Linked DNA regions of Homo sapiens: region 1 is reported to be linked to region 2. The links are microRNA targets in miRTarBase. Many come from high-throughput screens and were not tested one by one. Region 2 holds a microRNA gene; the other region holds the end of a gene's coding sequence.
The links. The annotated mature microRNA hsa-miR-181b-2-3p reads CUCACUGAUCAAUGAAUGCA and lies in region 2 at 4,121-4,140, opposite strand. An mRNA with a match to its seed (bases 2 to 7 or 8) in the 3' UTR can be bound and repressed. Matches are read on the target gene's strand: a 7mer-m8 pairs with bases 2 to 8, a 7mer-A1 pairs with bases 2 to 7 and ends in A, and an 8mer does both.

Region 1: the mRNA of CILP2 is a reported target of hsa-miR-181b-2-3p. Seed matches in the 3' UTR shown: 7mer-A1 at 5,396-5,402.

The regions. Positions count from the first base shown.
Region 1 is chr19:19,544,920-19,551,919 of GRCh38, reverse strand. CILP2 (cartilage intermediate layer protein 2) reads right to left here. Exons shown (of 8, transcript NM_153221.2): 8 at 5,261-7,000. The coding sequence ends at 5,904. Among named protein-coding and RNA genes, the nearest start is that of CILP2, 10 kb to the right of the region's middle. RefSeq lists an enhancer at 5,855-6,538.
Region 2 is chr9:124,690,640-124,697,902 of GRCh38, reverse strand. MIR181B2 (microRNA 181b-2) reads right to left here and starts at 4,193; the gene lies at 4,105-4,193. All of the region lies in intron 2 of NR6A1 (nuclear receptor subfamily 6 group A member 1), which reads left to right. All of the region lies in intron 1 of MIR181A2HG (MIR181A2 host gene), which reads right to left. MIR181A2 (microRNA 181a-2) reads right to left here and starts at 5,461; the gene lies at 5,352-5,461. RefSeq lists an enhancer at 2,336-2,881.

The DNA.
Region 1 (7,000 bases), not on the chromosome of region 2:
TGTCCAAGTGTTTGTGTTCAGCTGGGCCAGATGGCAAGCGGGGCCGAGGCTGGGGACCCAGGCCTCCCAGAAGTCCTGGCGAAGCACCCCCAGGCCCTCACTCCAACATCCCTCTGCCTAGAAGCCCCTGCCCCGTGAAAGCCACTCAGCAGCCAGATAACAAAGGACAGGGGATGATCTCGCTGAGAAGTCCCAGGGGGATCTTGTATGTCCCGGGAGGAGGGGCCTCCCGGCCTGGCCAGGATTCCAGGTGCAAAGATGCAACTTTTGCCAACGCAGACTTCTTTGAGCTGCACCATTCTGGCCCGCAAACTTTTGAGTTGGTTTGGGACCAGGTCAGCAGCCACAATTGCACGTCAGCAACCAGGGCTGTGTGTGAACAGCTCTGCTTCCCTGTGGGCCCTGAGCAAGGTATGTCCCGCTCTCAGCCTCAGTTTTCTCAGCTGTAAAATGGGGATCATAATAGAATTTTCCCTATGGGTTTTTGACAGGATCCAACCCAACACACGACAGGTGCTTCACACAGCTGAAGTATCTTCTATCCCTCCTGGCTGAGTCAGTGCTGCCTCCCCTATCTGACTGGAAGCTCCCTGAGGGCAGAGGCTGGGTCCTCAAAAGGAGGTAGTGAATTGGGGTTTGTCTGTCTCCCTCCCCTGCCCAACATCCTCACAGACAAAAGGTAAACCTCAAAACCAGCATTAAGACTTTTGGACATCTGAGCTTGGTTTGGTAAACTCCTACTCACCCTTCAAAGCCCAAGTCAAAATGCCCTCTCTTCCAGAAAGCCTTCCCTGGGCCCTCCTCTGGGTTTTCCCAGCCCCTGGCCTTTGGGCTGGCCAACCTTGGCCCTGCAGACTGGAGTATCTGTGGCCAGTGCTGCCTCCCCCTCCTGACTGGGGTTCTGTGGGGGCCAGTCCTGGTGCTGAGTTTGTGTCTGATGATGCACATCTGTATCCACAGGTCTGCATGTAGCCATCACATGGGTACGTGTGTGCCCACTGTGTGTGCATGGGTCCCTGTGCTGGGCCCCAGGATGGGCAGCCAGGCCACCTCCCACCAGACAGTGCTGTCTTTATGAGGCCACAGTCAGGCTGGGATACTCTGGCTGGGCTGGGAGCTTATTCTTCCACCAACCCTCAGCCGGGAGGAACTGGGGTGGGAGCAGCCGGCCTCAGGCTCCATCGTGCTGGCCCCATGCCCTGAACGCCACGGTTAAAGCTGCAGCTCCATCTGGGGCAAGGAGGGAGGCTGGGGCCCAGGGAAGGACTGAGTCCCGAGTGGGAGCCCCCGCCCCCACCTCAGAGGCCCCGCCAGGCAGCCTTCAAGGACATACCTGAGGTTTGGCAGCCCCCAGCCTAGCCAGCCCCCAGGGCTGAGTCAGCAGGAAGGGATTCAGGACTTCCCTGGAAAAGTGGCTGGGACCTTGAGGCCTCCCGCCAGTCCCCAGCCCCAGGGCCGACCCGCTCCCCAGGGCCCCGAGAGAGTGGGAGGTGCTGCCTGTGCTCGGCATGGCTTCATGTGCCTGGTGGGGCTGAGTTGTGGAGGGTCGTGGGGGGTTGAGACTGGCCAGCTGGGAGTCTGGGGGTCAAGTGTGTCCCGATGTGTGGGGTGATGATGGGTGAGTCAAAGGGGAGCTGGGCACAGGTGCGCACAGGTGTGCACAGGTATGCACAGGTGCACGCAGCTGCAGGCACCGCTACCTGACCCTAAGCGTGGGCCTTTCTCTGTGTTGAGGGTGCATCTGTCTACCCGTGCTGCTGTGATGAGGGGGGACAGTGTCCAGCGTGTCCCATGGGTCTGGTGTGTCTGGGCTCATGCTCTTTTCGAGTGCAACTGCCTATGTGGCTGTCCTGAGGGTGACAGTGTCACCAATCAGGTGACGAGAAGTTGGCTAGGAAGTATGGGAAGGAGGGAGTCATGCCCCTGACTACAGGGGACAGGGATGGGGCGTGACGAGGGCAGCGTGACCTCGAGATCGATGACAGGCGTGTCTGGCTCTGTGTGACACACTCGCCCTGCCTAGGGTAGTGTTTGTTTCCCTGCATCCACCTCCAAACCTCAGGGTCTGCTGATTCCCCGATGGCCGGGGTCTCCTCCCTCCTGCCTGCCCAGACCCCCTCCACCCTCGGCCCAGGGGTCTAGACTTAGCTCCTGCCCTGGGAGGGCTGAGGCATCGGGACATGGCATTCTCCTGGTCTGCTCTCACCCTGTGGCATCCTGCCTTTGTTTCCACCATTAAAGCACAAGCACTTCCCCCACCTGACCAAAGCCAGGTCTCCCCGCCAGGCTGGCTCCAGTCTTTGGGGTCTGAGGCTGGGTCAGACCCAACTCTGAGGGCTGATGAGAGAGACAGACGGGGCTAGGGAAGTGGTGGGTGGCCACGCCAGGTCCACGAGGCCCCAATGGAGGAGCCAGGGATGTTCAGCCAGGACAGGAGGCAGCTGGCGGGGAGAGGGCGCTGGGCTGCAGGGTTTGGACCCTGGAAGGGCCCCCAAGTAGGAGGGAGCAGACCCCAGTTCCGTGAAAGAAGCATGTTGTAAGAAGCTGAGTCCTGCACCAGCTCCAGGGGAGTCTTTGTCACGAGATATTGTGTAACCTTCTCCTGCTTCAGCACAACCCATAGCTCCCTATTGCTCACCAGAGAACTCAGGCTCCTCACTCAGCATTCGAGCCCCTGCTCACCTCCACTTTGTGTCTCCCTTCTACTGCCGCCCTCCGTGGGTCTCCCTCCTCCAGCTTTCACGTTCACCTTTCCAGCTCCCTGGTATGCCCTTCCTGCCTTGGCCACCCAGCAAACTCCTACACATCCTTCAAGACCCAGTGCTTATGTCCCCTTCTCCAGGAAACATTGCCCTTCCCCAGCCCACAGTACCCCATTTGCTGTGTGACCCTGAGAAGATTCCTCCAGCTGTGGAATGGGGGTAAAAATCATCCTCCCTAAAAGCATATTTTGGGGATCCCAAGGCAACAGATTTATACTAAATGCCCTTAAAGTGAGTTAGGCTTTGCGGGGGCTGGCTCGGAGGGCTTACAGTCAGTCAACGCTCAATGTGTGTTCATTTTTATCTCCCTCCTCTTGGATTCTGTGGTTTGAAGACTCTTGTTTTAAACATTTTACTGTTCCAAGATTTTTTCCCCATCATGGTGCTAGGAATTTTAAGAACCCCTGGTTCTAAAATTATAAAAGTCTAAAATGCCGTGGGCGGGACCAAGGGCCTGTTTGTGCCCTGAGCTGACCCAGGGTGGCTGCAGCTGGGGGTCTCTTCGAGGGGGTCCCCTGCCCCTCACTCCTCCCAGACTGAGGGGGTGTGGTCTGGCAGCCCCAATTTGGTTGGGGGGTAGACAATGGATTTACCAGGAGGCGGACGGTAGCCCAGGTTCCAGGAGGGAGGGGGTGGGATTCCTGGCTTGAGGGCTGCAGTTGGGGGAGACAGGCAGTGTCAAGAGGCACAAGGCTGTTGACTCAGGTTGATGGCGTCCTTCTCTTGGAGCCTCAGTTTCCTCATCTGGAAATTGTGGCCAAACGCTGCCCTCTTGCAGAGTTATCAGCAGGGATGGGGAGGAGCTGGACTCTAGCCCCGTGCCCTGCCCAGCTTTTGCTTCAGCCATGTCCTCCTCCTGAGATGCCCTTCCTGGCCCAGGCGTGGTGACTGGGGAGGGGGCTTCTGGAGGATGCCCGTCCACCCCTGCCCCACCCTAGGGAAGGGGACAGGGCTGGGCCAGCTGCCCGCTCCATGCCTGGCTGGCCGCCCTAGCCTGGCAGCGTCGGAGGCCCCAACACTTTCTCAATGAAAGGTATTTGGCCGTGGAGCCTGACACCTCATCACCCTCCGCCTGGAAAGCTGCAGCCAGCTTTGCCCGCTTCAAGTGGGAGCGCCCCCATTCCCACCCCTCCCCAGGACCCCCACCAGGCAGCCCTGAGCAGGGTTCTGTGGCAGGCAGGCCGGGAACCTAGGTTGCCTTGGGAGGGGCCTGTGCCTCTGAGCCTATCAGCTGGGGGTATAGAGACAGTAAGTTCTGGATAAATGTGTGTTCTCCCAAGCCCTGCCAGCTCCCTCAGGGACCTCTCGCCTCTCTTGCCTGTCACAGCCTATCGAGGGTGAGGCTGGGGTGCCAATGTCTGGGGCTGCCCAAACCCAAACTCCAGCAGAGCCCTTAGGGCCCACCTTCAGAGACCAGGGGTGACGCCTCGCATCTTGGGCTTCTCCCATGCCTCCAGGCCCCCAAGTCCACCCTAGGGCAAAGGAAGTGTTTCCCTGACTGAAAGGGTGAGAGCTGCGGAGGTTCGGATTTGCCAAGACCTCAGCCGAAGGGGGGATGTGGCCAGTGGACAAGAGCCAGGGACCCTCTGGGTGGAGCACTGGCCCAGGGCATATTGGGGTATGCACGTGTGAGCCTGTCTCCCCCTAGAGAGATAGGCTCTCTCAGGTCCCCTGAAGTTGCTAGTGCAGAGCTCACACCTCTAAATGCTGGATGGGTGAATGATGAGATCGGGGGTCTGGAGAGGGGAGCCAGTGAATGGGTGGGAGATTGAAGAGGAAGTGGGTGGTTGCCCCCTAAGCTAAGGGACGCTCCATACCCCCACTCCCTAGGGGGTGTCAGCCAGGGACAAGTCTCCCATCCCAGGTGCCCTGGAGGCCACTCCAGTCTTGCCACATTGATGCCTTCATCCCCAGACCCTGGGGAATCACACACCTAGAGCTATAGGGGGCTCAAACCTGCTGGGATTCATGCCAGACCCCAGGACTTCAGTTTTTCTGTCTGGACAGTGGGGGTGTGGTCAGGACAGCGCCGGCCCTGTGGAGCGCCAGGAGGACACACGTGCACACAGACTGCCAGCCAGCCGTGATTCTGCCGCCTCCAGACCCAGGGTCCTGGCAAGGTCAGAAAGCCCTGGCCTCGGGCAGCCCCGTCGCCACATGACCGAGGTGTGGCCGGGGTTCAGGTGGGTGGGGCCCAGGGTGGGGCTGCTGTGGACTCGACTGAGGAGGTCCAGGGTGGCCTGGCTTGCTGTTGCCTGCCCCAGAGGCTCCCCTGCCAGGGCCCCTCCCTGCCTGCTGTAGCCCCGGGGCATACGGCCAGGCACAGCCAAGGAGTCCAGGCCAGAGCAGCAGGCTGCCACTGTGTTCAGCGGTCACAGCCGCCCGTGCTTCTTGCCCCCGGCACCCGCGTGTGCCTCCGCGTGTTTCTGCCTGAAAGGTGTATCTGGGCCGGGCAGCCCCAGCCTCCATCCTTCCTCCCTAGAGCCTGACACCATGAGTTGGAAATAAAGCATTTTTAATTCAGCCCCCGGAGGGCCTGCCCAACGCCCCGGGCAGGTCTCTAAGCACCAAACACGTGAGAATTGTTCCCCTCAGCCCCAGAGCCTCCCCCGCATGGGAACCCCTTCCTCCTTTTCACTGGGCCCAGCCTGGACCCCACACCCCCACTCACACCCACAACCAGCTCCCCACACTTTGTTTCAATAAATAACCCCAAAAACAAAGCTCGGGGCAGGGGACCTGGTCTAGCACTGAGCTCCAAACAGGCAGAGGGGACTTTGTGCCAAACGCCAGAACTCCCAAGGGTAGAAGATTGAAATCAGGGTCAAAATACGCACGAGAAGTCAGAGACGGCTTCTGAGCTGGGAGCGGGTCCCTTCAGGCTAGGGTTGAACGTCGTCCCCTGGGTGCTGGCCCCAGAGTCACCGCAAACTCCATTCCATACCACACAGCAACAATTGTCTTCCTGGTGTTTCTACCATCGGATGCTCTGGGTTCTTGTCTGACTCTGAGTTCTGGAAAGGGGCGGGAAAGGGGACCCAGACACCTGGGGAGGGGGCTGTCTGGAGAAGAAGGAGGGGCAAAACTTCCTGGGGTCAAAGGAGTCTGGAGGGAGGTGGGAAAGCGAGGCCCCTGCCCAGGTCACTGCCGGACCCTACCCCGGCGGGTGCGGAGGGGACCTGAGGCCCGGGCCTGTGCCTGCGCCGCCTCGCTCATCTCCCTGCGGATGTCACCAAGTGCTGTCGCCGGGGACTCCAGCAGCCTCTGGAAGAGGCTGGGTCGTCCGGCCGGTGGCTCCCGGCACTGGAAGGTGACGGCTGTGCCGGCATCAGCCTTCATCTCTCTGGAGAAGCCGTCAGAGGAACCATCAAAGCAGCGGCCAATGGCGATCTCCTTGGCCAAGCGTGGGCTCTGGTCAGTGACAGTGTAGACGCCATAGTTGTGGCCCAGAGGGTCTAGGGGGGCCAGCATGGAGAAGGCAGCTGGGTCCTCCGCGGGCACCGGTGGGGGGTGCCGGGTCAGGTAATCCCGAAGGAGTCCGTTGACGGCCACGCGCCGGCAGCTGCCCTGGGGCATAATGGTCACCAGCGTCCTGTCCACCTGCCGCTGGTCGAACAGCATCCCGCTGCACTTGAACTCCACGCAGGCTGCCGAGGTGCCCGGACGCTCGGGGTCTCGCACACTCCGGGCATCCCGAAGTCCGTAGAGCTGGCCGCGGGTGCGTGGGTGGCTGCCCCCTGCGTTGTGGGAGCGGACCATATACTCCTGGGGACCCTGGATCTTCACCTTGAGGAAGCAGGCCCGGAACTCCTGCGGGTTGGGCCACCAGGCCAGGAGATCGCCAGTCCAGGAGGCAGGTGTGCCCTCTCGGAAGGGGACCACGTTGTACTCGTACTTGTCCGCCTCCACCCTGGCGAAGCGGAAGTGGCTGGCAGTCACCGGGGCCCCCTGGCATTCCCGCAGGCTGCGCCACGGGTACACAGGCCCATTGGCCTCGGCGGGGTCACCTGGCCTGGGCTTGGCGAGGTTGATGCGGAAGCCGTTACGCTTGAAGGCGGGATCGTCGTGGTCCGTCCGACGGTACCCCAGCCTGTCCAGGTAGGGCTGGGTGACGCCCACGGTGGCCGGGAGTGGGCGGGGCAAGGAAGGGGCCGGCTCCAGCTCCTCGCCGCCCAGGGTGGCGGTGACCAGGGCGGTGTAGGCGTCTGGCCTGTCGGCGTCGCAGAAGGCGGGGAGGC
Region 2 (7,263 bases):
CCTGTGAAGCAAATACTATTGTTGTATCTCCTATTTACAGATGACACAGATTTAAAGGTTAAGTAATTTGCTCAAGTTCATATAGTTGCTAAGTAACAGCTGAGATTTTTACCCTCATTTAGCCCAAGCTCTTCATCACTACCTTTCCAGAAATCTATTTCCACAATGACTAGAACGCCAAAATTGTTCTTTCCAAAACTATTAGTAATCTGTTTTTTTTTTTTTTAAATCCTACCTTCTTTTCTGGCCTTGTCTCATGACTTTTTCACCATCTTTTTATGTGCTTTAGTCACAATTTCTGTTTTGTAAAAACACTGCTTCTTTGGCCTACACAACATACCATCCATTCTCTATGCTTGGAATGCTTACTCTATTTCACCAAGGTAGTTACACATACCCTTGAAGTCTTTACTTATACATCACTTCCTCAAGGAAGTTCCCTGACCCTTCTTACCACCAAGACTGGATTGGTCCCTCCTATTATTTGCTCTCATAGTACCTTACTTTTATCTTCTGCAGAGCTCTTCACACTTGCAATTAGCTATTTGTTCGTTAGAATTAGTTCTGCCTTTTACGTTATATACTTTTGTTTCTTCCATGTCTCCTGGCTCCTGTTGCAGTCCAGGTATACACTAGGTGTCCAATAAGTATTTGTTACCTTTTTCTTTCTGCACTTAGATCATTCTTTCTCAGATCCATGCTTATGAATCATAAATGTGCATTCCTTGTTCTGATATCTGTTCCAAAAGTGGAATCCTCTTTCTTCCATTGTGAAATTGCCCATTTCTTTCTTAGTACACTCCAGGCTCCTAATCTAGTCAGGAAAGTTTGGCATCATTCTTGACTCTTTGCTTTCTTTTCTGTTTGAGCCAGTTCTTTGGAAGGTGGTTCTGATATATCGATATGGAAAGATGGCCACAATATTTTAAGTGAAGAAAGATTTCAGGCCGGGTGCGGTGGCTCACGCCTATAATCCCAACACTTTGGGAGGCTGAGGCGGGTGGATCACTTGAGGTCAGGAGTTTGAGACCAGCCTGGGCCACATGGCAAAATCCTGTCTCTACTAAAAATACAAAAAATTATCCAGGCATGGTGGTACGTGCCTGTGGTCCCAGCTACTTGGGAGGCTGAGGTGGGCGGATCACTTGAGGTCAGGAATTCGAGACAGCTTGGCCAACATGTCAAAACCACATCTCTACTAGAAATACAAAAATTAGCCAGGCGTGGTGGTGAGTGCCTGTTGTTCCAGCTACTTTGGAGGCTGAGGTGAGAGGATCAGTTGAACCCAGGAGGCAGAGGTTGCAGTGAGCCGAGATCACACCACTGCACTCCAGCCTGGGTGACAGAGCGAGACTCCATCTCAAAAAAAAAAAAAAAAAAAAGCTAGAGAACATTATGTATAATTTGTGATGTTATTTTCTCTAAGTATAAATACATGCATTTTAAGTATCTTGAAATATCTGTGAGGCTATACACCGAACAGGATGATGGAAGGGGGTCAGCCAGTAGGCTTTTATTTTGAAAAACAAAAGCCAAAGTATGCCTTTTTGAGATAACCTTTCCTTTCATTCCATTCCTGTTGACTCAGTTCTACCCCTGCTAACTTGTGCAAGAAAGTTCTCTTTTTTCTCTTTTCTTCCCCTCACTTCATCTGCTTAGTGACTCTTCCCAGTCTTGCTTTCATTGTCTCCTTGCTGAGTTTAGCATTTAAAACGGCTCTCTGTTGGACTAATTGACTTTGCGCCTTGCTCACAAGTCCTTCTGTAATATGTCCTTTTACCTTTTCAGTGCCATTCCTTATGACTCCCTAATACAGTCTCTGGACTATTCTCTTCCTGTCCCCTATACATGCCATGTAATTTTTCTGTTACAGGTATTTATTTTGAGGCCTATCTGCAGAAAACACCCTTTAACTTACATAATTGTCTCCCTTCTTGTAGTACTTAGTTTTATCCAAGAGAAAACTTGGATTTGGTTTAATGAAATATATAATTGTTTCATTGGCATATTTAAAGACTATGTAATAGTCTGTAAATAAATAGCATGCTTGTTCAAGTGTACATTTTTCAAAGTACGTGTCAGACATTCTTTTCTAATGTTTTCAGAAATTTTGGAAATAATTGGTTAAAAATAAATGCCTAGAATGCACAGCATCTTGAAAAACAAGACTGCGTGGAGTACCTTCTGTGTGTCTACCAGTCTCACAAAAAACTCTTCTATAAAGACCCCCTCGGGCCGGGCGCGGTGACTCATGCCTATAATCCCAGCAATTTGGGCGGCCGAGGCGGGCGGATCACTTGAGGTCAGGAGTCTGAGACCAGCCTGGCCAACATGGCTCTACTAAAAACACATTTCTTCTAAAAACACAAAAATTGACTGGGTGTGGTGGCGGGCCAGCTACTTGAGAGGCTGAGGCACGAGAATCACTTGAACCCAGGAAGCAGAGGTTGCAGTGAGCCGAGATCGCATCACTGTACTCCAGCCTGGGAAACAGAGCAAGACTGTCTCAAAAAAACAAACAAACGAAAGAAAAACACACACAAAAAAACCTTTTGGTAATTTCTTTGGGTAGGTTTTAGTTTTTTAGATAGCGTAAATCCAAATCCATTCATTTCCATAAAACATCAGACACAATTTGATGTATATTTGGCCACCAAACATGGTGCAAAATTTTATGTAGTCTGGAGATACTTAAAAGCAGCACAAATGTGACTCTACCTGTCTGCACTCAGCAGAATAGTGGCGATTTCAGGTGGTGACACAAAAGGTTGGGCAATAGTTGAAAAGTGGATGACATGAAATGTGGTGGTGGGATGGGGGCAGGAAGCCGATGTTAAGCTAGTGAACTTTATTTACTTTGCTTCCAGCTTCCAGTGACCCAAAATCACCTCGTCTAGAGTAGGGCTCAGGAATTTGCCATTTTAAAAGCAACTCTAGATGATTCTGGTGTACAAGAAGTTTGGGAAACACTGGCTTGAACCTGATATTTTCTCTGAACTCTCATAGTTTTCTTTAGATTTTTCTTTTGGCTTTGATTTCTCTTTCTGGTTCTTGTCTCATTACCCCATCACTTCTCCTTCCTAATTTGACAGGAAAGCCTTGTCAAATTAAGGCTTGCTTAATTGTCAAGGCTAATTTGACAAGACTCTTCTCTTACTGTCTTATTTGACTTTTGCTATGAGAATCTGCTTCTTCTTAGACTTAAGTGTATGATAAATTATTCATGACCAAGGGCCTTGTTTTTCTTTCTTTAACATGGGATTTAGTGGCTTATCTCATGTTACAGGATTTAGAGAGTTGATACTACATTTAAATTTTTTGTTAAGAAAAATGTACATCTTCTATCTCACTTAGGTGTTTTTCCTGTTTGAGGGACATGGTTTGCAAAGGTTAGAATGAATGAGCCTCATAGTTTTTGTCAAAAGAGAATATTGATGTACATCTGAATAATAACCAGAACATTCATATTAAGTCATACTATATAGCCATTTAAAAGAATGACGAGTACATAAAAGACTGTTGTGGAAGTCTATGATATATAGCTGAATAACAAAATAGATTATAGAACAATAGGTAAAAATGAGCTTATTTTTGTCTAAGCCACTCTCCCCCCAAAACATGCAAAATTACAGCTATTTATCTGTGTATGTATGGATAAAGGTCTTCAAGGATATAAAATAAATTCTAGTTATGATATTTATTATCTTAATAAGTTTATTATAATTATACATGTTTTCCTCCGAGGAAATGGATTGCAGATGATGATTGAAGGGATTTTCAATTTTTACTTTGTATATTTTTGTATTTGAATTTCTAAATAATAAGCATATGATTCTGTTTAGAAATTCTGAATGTACTGATTTTTAAAATGTGATGTGATATCCAGATATGTATTTAATTCTTCCTATAAAATATCATTTCCTTAAATCTAGACTATTGAAAAAGGAGAAAAGTACTAGGAATTTAGAGAACTTACTCCATGTTAGAACCAAGGAGAACAAGAAAAGCTTTAGCTAGTGTTTTGGAAATAGTAGCAGCTCCCACTCACAGCAGTAGCTGCTGCACTCAGGCGACTCTCTGCACATGCTTTTGCTTCCTTTGGGTTGTTTGGTCCGCAGTTTGCATTCATTGATCAGTGAGTTGATTCAGACTCAAACCCACCGACAGCAATGAATGTTGAGTGCAGCCATCAGTGTTTTCAGTTGGTGGGGTTGCCTTTGCCCTCCCTGGCTGACTCCTGGCTCTTCTTTTCCATCTCAGTTCTTTGAAGTCTGTGTGTCTGGCTTCTCCCTTAGTAACCAGCCATCTGCATGATTGAGGGCCCACACAGGTGTCCATAACATTGACATTGGAGCTGGGAGGTTATTGCAGATGAGGAAGCTGTGGTTCAGAGAAGGAAGGAGTGCTTGGAGAACCTCACAGGTAGCACTGCGCCACACAGGCAGTGCTTGCATATTAGTACCTGTAAACCACAGCTGAGGGACCTGCTTTTCCTCTTTGTTTTGAACTGAGAAGTATGAGTGCTTTTTTGAGGTAAATTAGCAGATTATGTTGGAGTTTAATAATAACAGCTTACATATATTGAGCATTTGCTGTGGGCTAGTAATGGTACAAAGCACCTTATATATTATCTCATTGAGTCTCAAAACTCCATGATAGGTACTCTTAGCCTCTGTTTTATATGTGAGAAAACTGAGACACTTGCTTAGGGGGTCAAATAACTAGTTAAGGGCTTGAGCCAAGATTCATCCCAGATCTGACTGACTCCAGGGCTAAGTTTTTGCTTGAATTTAGCAAACATTTAAATAAGCATATGTGGGGATATGTGGGCACTAGTAAGGCAATAGCTCATGCTCTAACTGGGATATCAAAAATTAACCATATTAACTATAATTCAAAGTGAAATGTGATAAGAACTGTCACAATTGGATAATTTTGTGCTATTTTTGCTTATTAAATCCTCCCCTTGCCCCTAATTAAAAATTTTGAGAGGATGTGGGAGAAATGGGAGTAATTATTTAACTGGATTTTATTCCAAAACAAAATACGTATTTTTAATAAATTTTTACTTGCTACGTCCTGTTTCTCACCAGAATGGTGCATATCTAGGAGACATGTAGGTACATTAGATATCATCATGGACTGCTCCTTACCTTGTTGAAATGAAACACTTTTTTTGTAAAAACAAACAAATAATAATAAAACACACAACAGAAAGCAAGGAACAGTGAGCAGTAGGAATAAAATTCACTGGACCACATTTGGGGGATTGCAGGACCATTTCTGGTGAACTCATGTGACATGTGAAGGTACAGCTTGCTCTTTTGCTTCAGGAAATGTAGTGTCGTCTGTAAGGACCCCAAGGTACAGTCAACGGTCAGTGGTTTTTTCAAATCCCAAACTCACCGACAGCGTTGAATGTTCCTTGGAGTCCTCTGAAGGCTGGCCTGATAGCCCTTCTTCATTCTCCCATCCACATCCCAAGAACCAGTGAGCAGTGAGACCACCGCTGATGGATGCTCTTACATTCCTCTCTGGGTTTCAAGTCGAGAGTATTTAAATTATAAAATCAATTTGTGTGCAGCAGAGAACTAATGAACTGTGGGATAGACTGTGCAGTAATTTGTACAAGCAGACTCAAATGAATGTCTGAGAAAATGTCTTTGAATGGTATTATTTTGTGATTCTAAAAATGTAAAATACCTGATTTTGCAGTAGTATTTTAATTGTTAACAAGGGTAAGAGATTAACATATATTGGGGATCTGCTATATACTAGGATTTGTATATTTTATCTCATTAAATTCTCAACAACCCACATTTTCCTGATGAAAAAACTTGAAGTGATTTGCCTAAAGTTACATTGCCAGGAGCCAAGGTTATAAGCCAGAATTTGAATACTGGACTTCATGTTTCCAGTGCTCACTCATCATACTGCTTCTGTTGTCTACTACAGAACTTACTGTTGATATCTAGGAGTAGACCCATCACTGCAGAGCCAAAGTCAAACATGTAAATTTCTTCTACTTGTTTGCCTATAATAATAGCAGGTAGGTCTATAGGTGAGGTCATAGGGGAAGATGAAAAACCTCGACCTCCATGATTGATGATCTCCTTTGCTGAGATCCTGCATTACTAAGTTACCACAGAGGTGTTAGTGATAGTCCACAAGCTATTTTCCATATTGAAAAAGCAAAAAATAAACCAAAAACCCACCACCTAATGTAAAGCTTGCATTTCTTCTTAGTTGAGAACACAGAGTGTAACTAAAATGTCAGATGTCATTTGTTCTGGCTGAAACGATACCAGTACATTATAGGACATAGTGGTTATTTTTGATTCTGTTGAATGTCTGTGATGAAAAATTTGAAAAATGAATTAATAATATGAATCTTCAGAATATGTGATTTACAATGGGACAGATCTAGGAATACTTAATAGGAAAAGGGCTTACAGAACTGCCTGCTGAATTGAAGTTAATCTCTAAATGGGGATAGTTATTACTATTTGCTTTAGGTTTAAATACTAAAGGCTGACTGGTCTCAAATTCATTTTTAAAGCAGCCAAATGGTACACGTTAAAAGAAAAAATATCAACCACTGAGATTTAGGTTTGAATGTAAACTGTTTACCTTCTATATCAGTTTAATTCACCCTCTGTCAAAACTCTGCATTAGCCAGCTTTGTTGAGTTTTCAGTGTTATGACAGTAAATTGTATACACACACAAAAAATCAGGCAACTGTAACTGTGTAATATGTTTAAAACTTTTTAATGGGTTTATTTTAAAAAGTCTTCCTCTTGGTCCAATAATATAAAGCGATGTCAAGCCTTATACTATTTGGATAAATATTTAGACTTTAAAAAAAATACTGATTTTGACTTCACCAAACCTTTAGATGCTTACAAAATATTATTCCTTAAATTCATAGCATTCTAAAAAGAATGCTTTTCACAGACTTGAAAAACTACAGAAAGGTAGGTTTCTGGAATGACATGGGGTGTTGCCCACTGTATTTGAAATAATTGTGTATCATGGCATAATGGCCTTCATCATCCTCATTCCTTTAAGTTCTTTAGTTTTTATCATCAAGCAAGTTTGAGCACACATTTGGGTTTTTTAAGTGAGTTTGGCTAAGGGGTTTATATACTCGGTGCAAGGATAAAGTCTAAGGGTTAAAAAAAGTTAAGGGTTAAATTAGCTAAGAGTGACCAGGCAGGGTGGCACATGTAATCCCAGCACTTTCGGAGGCTGAGGAGGGAGGA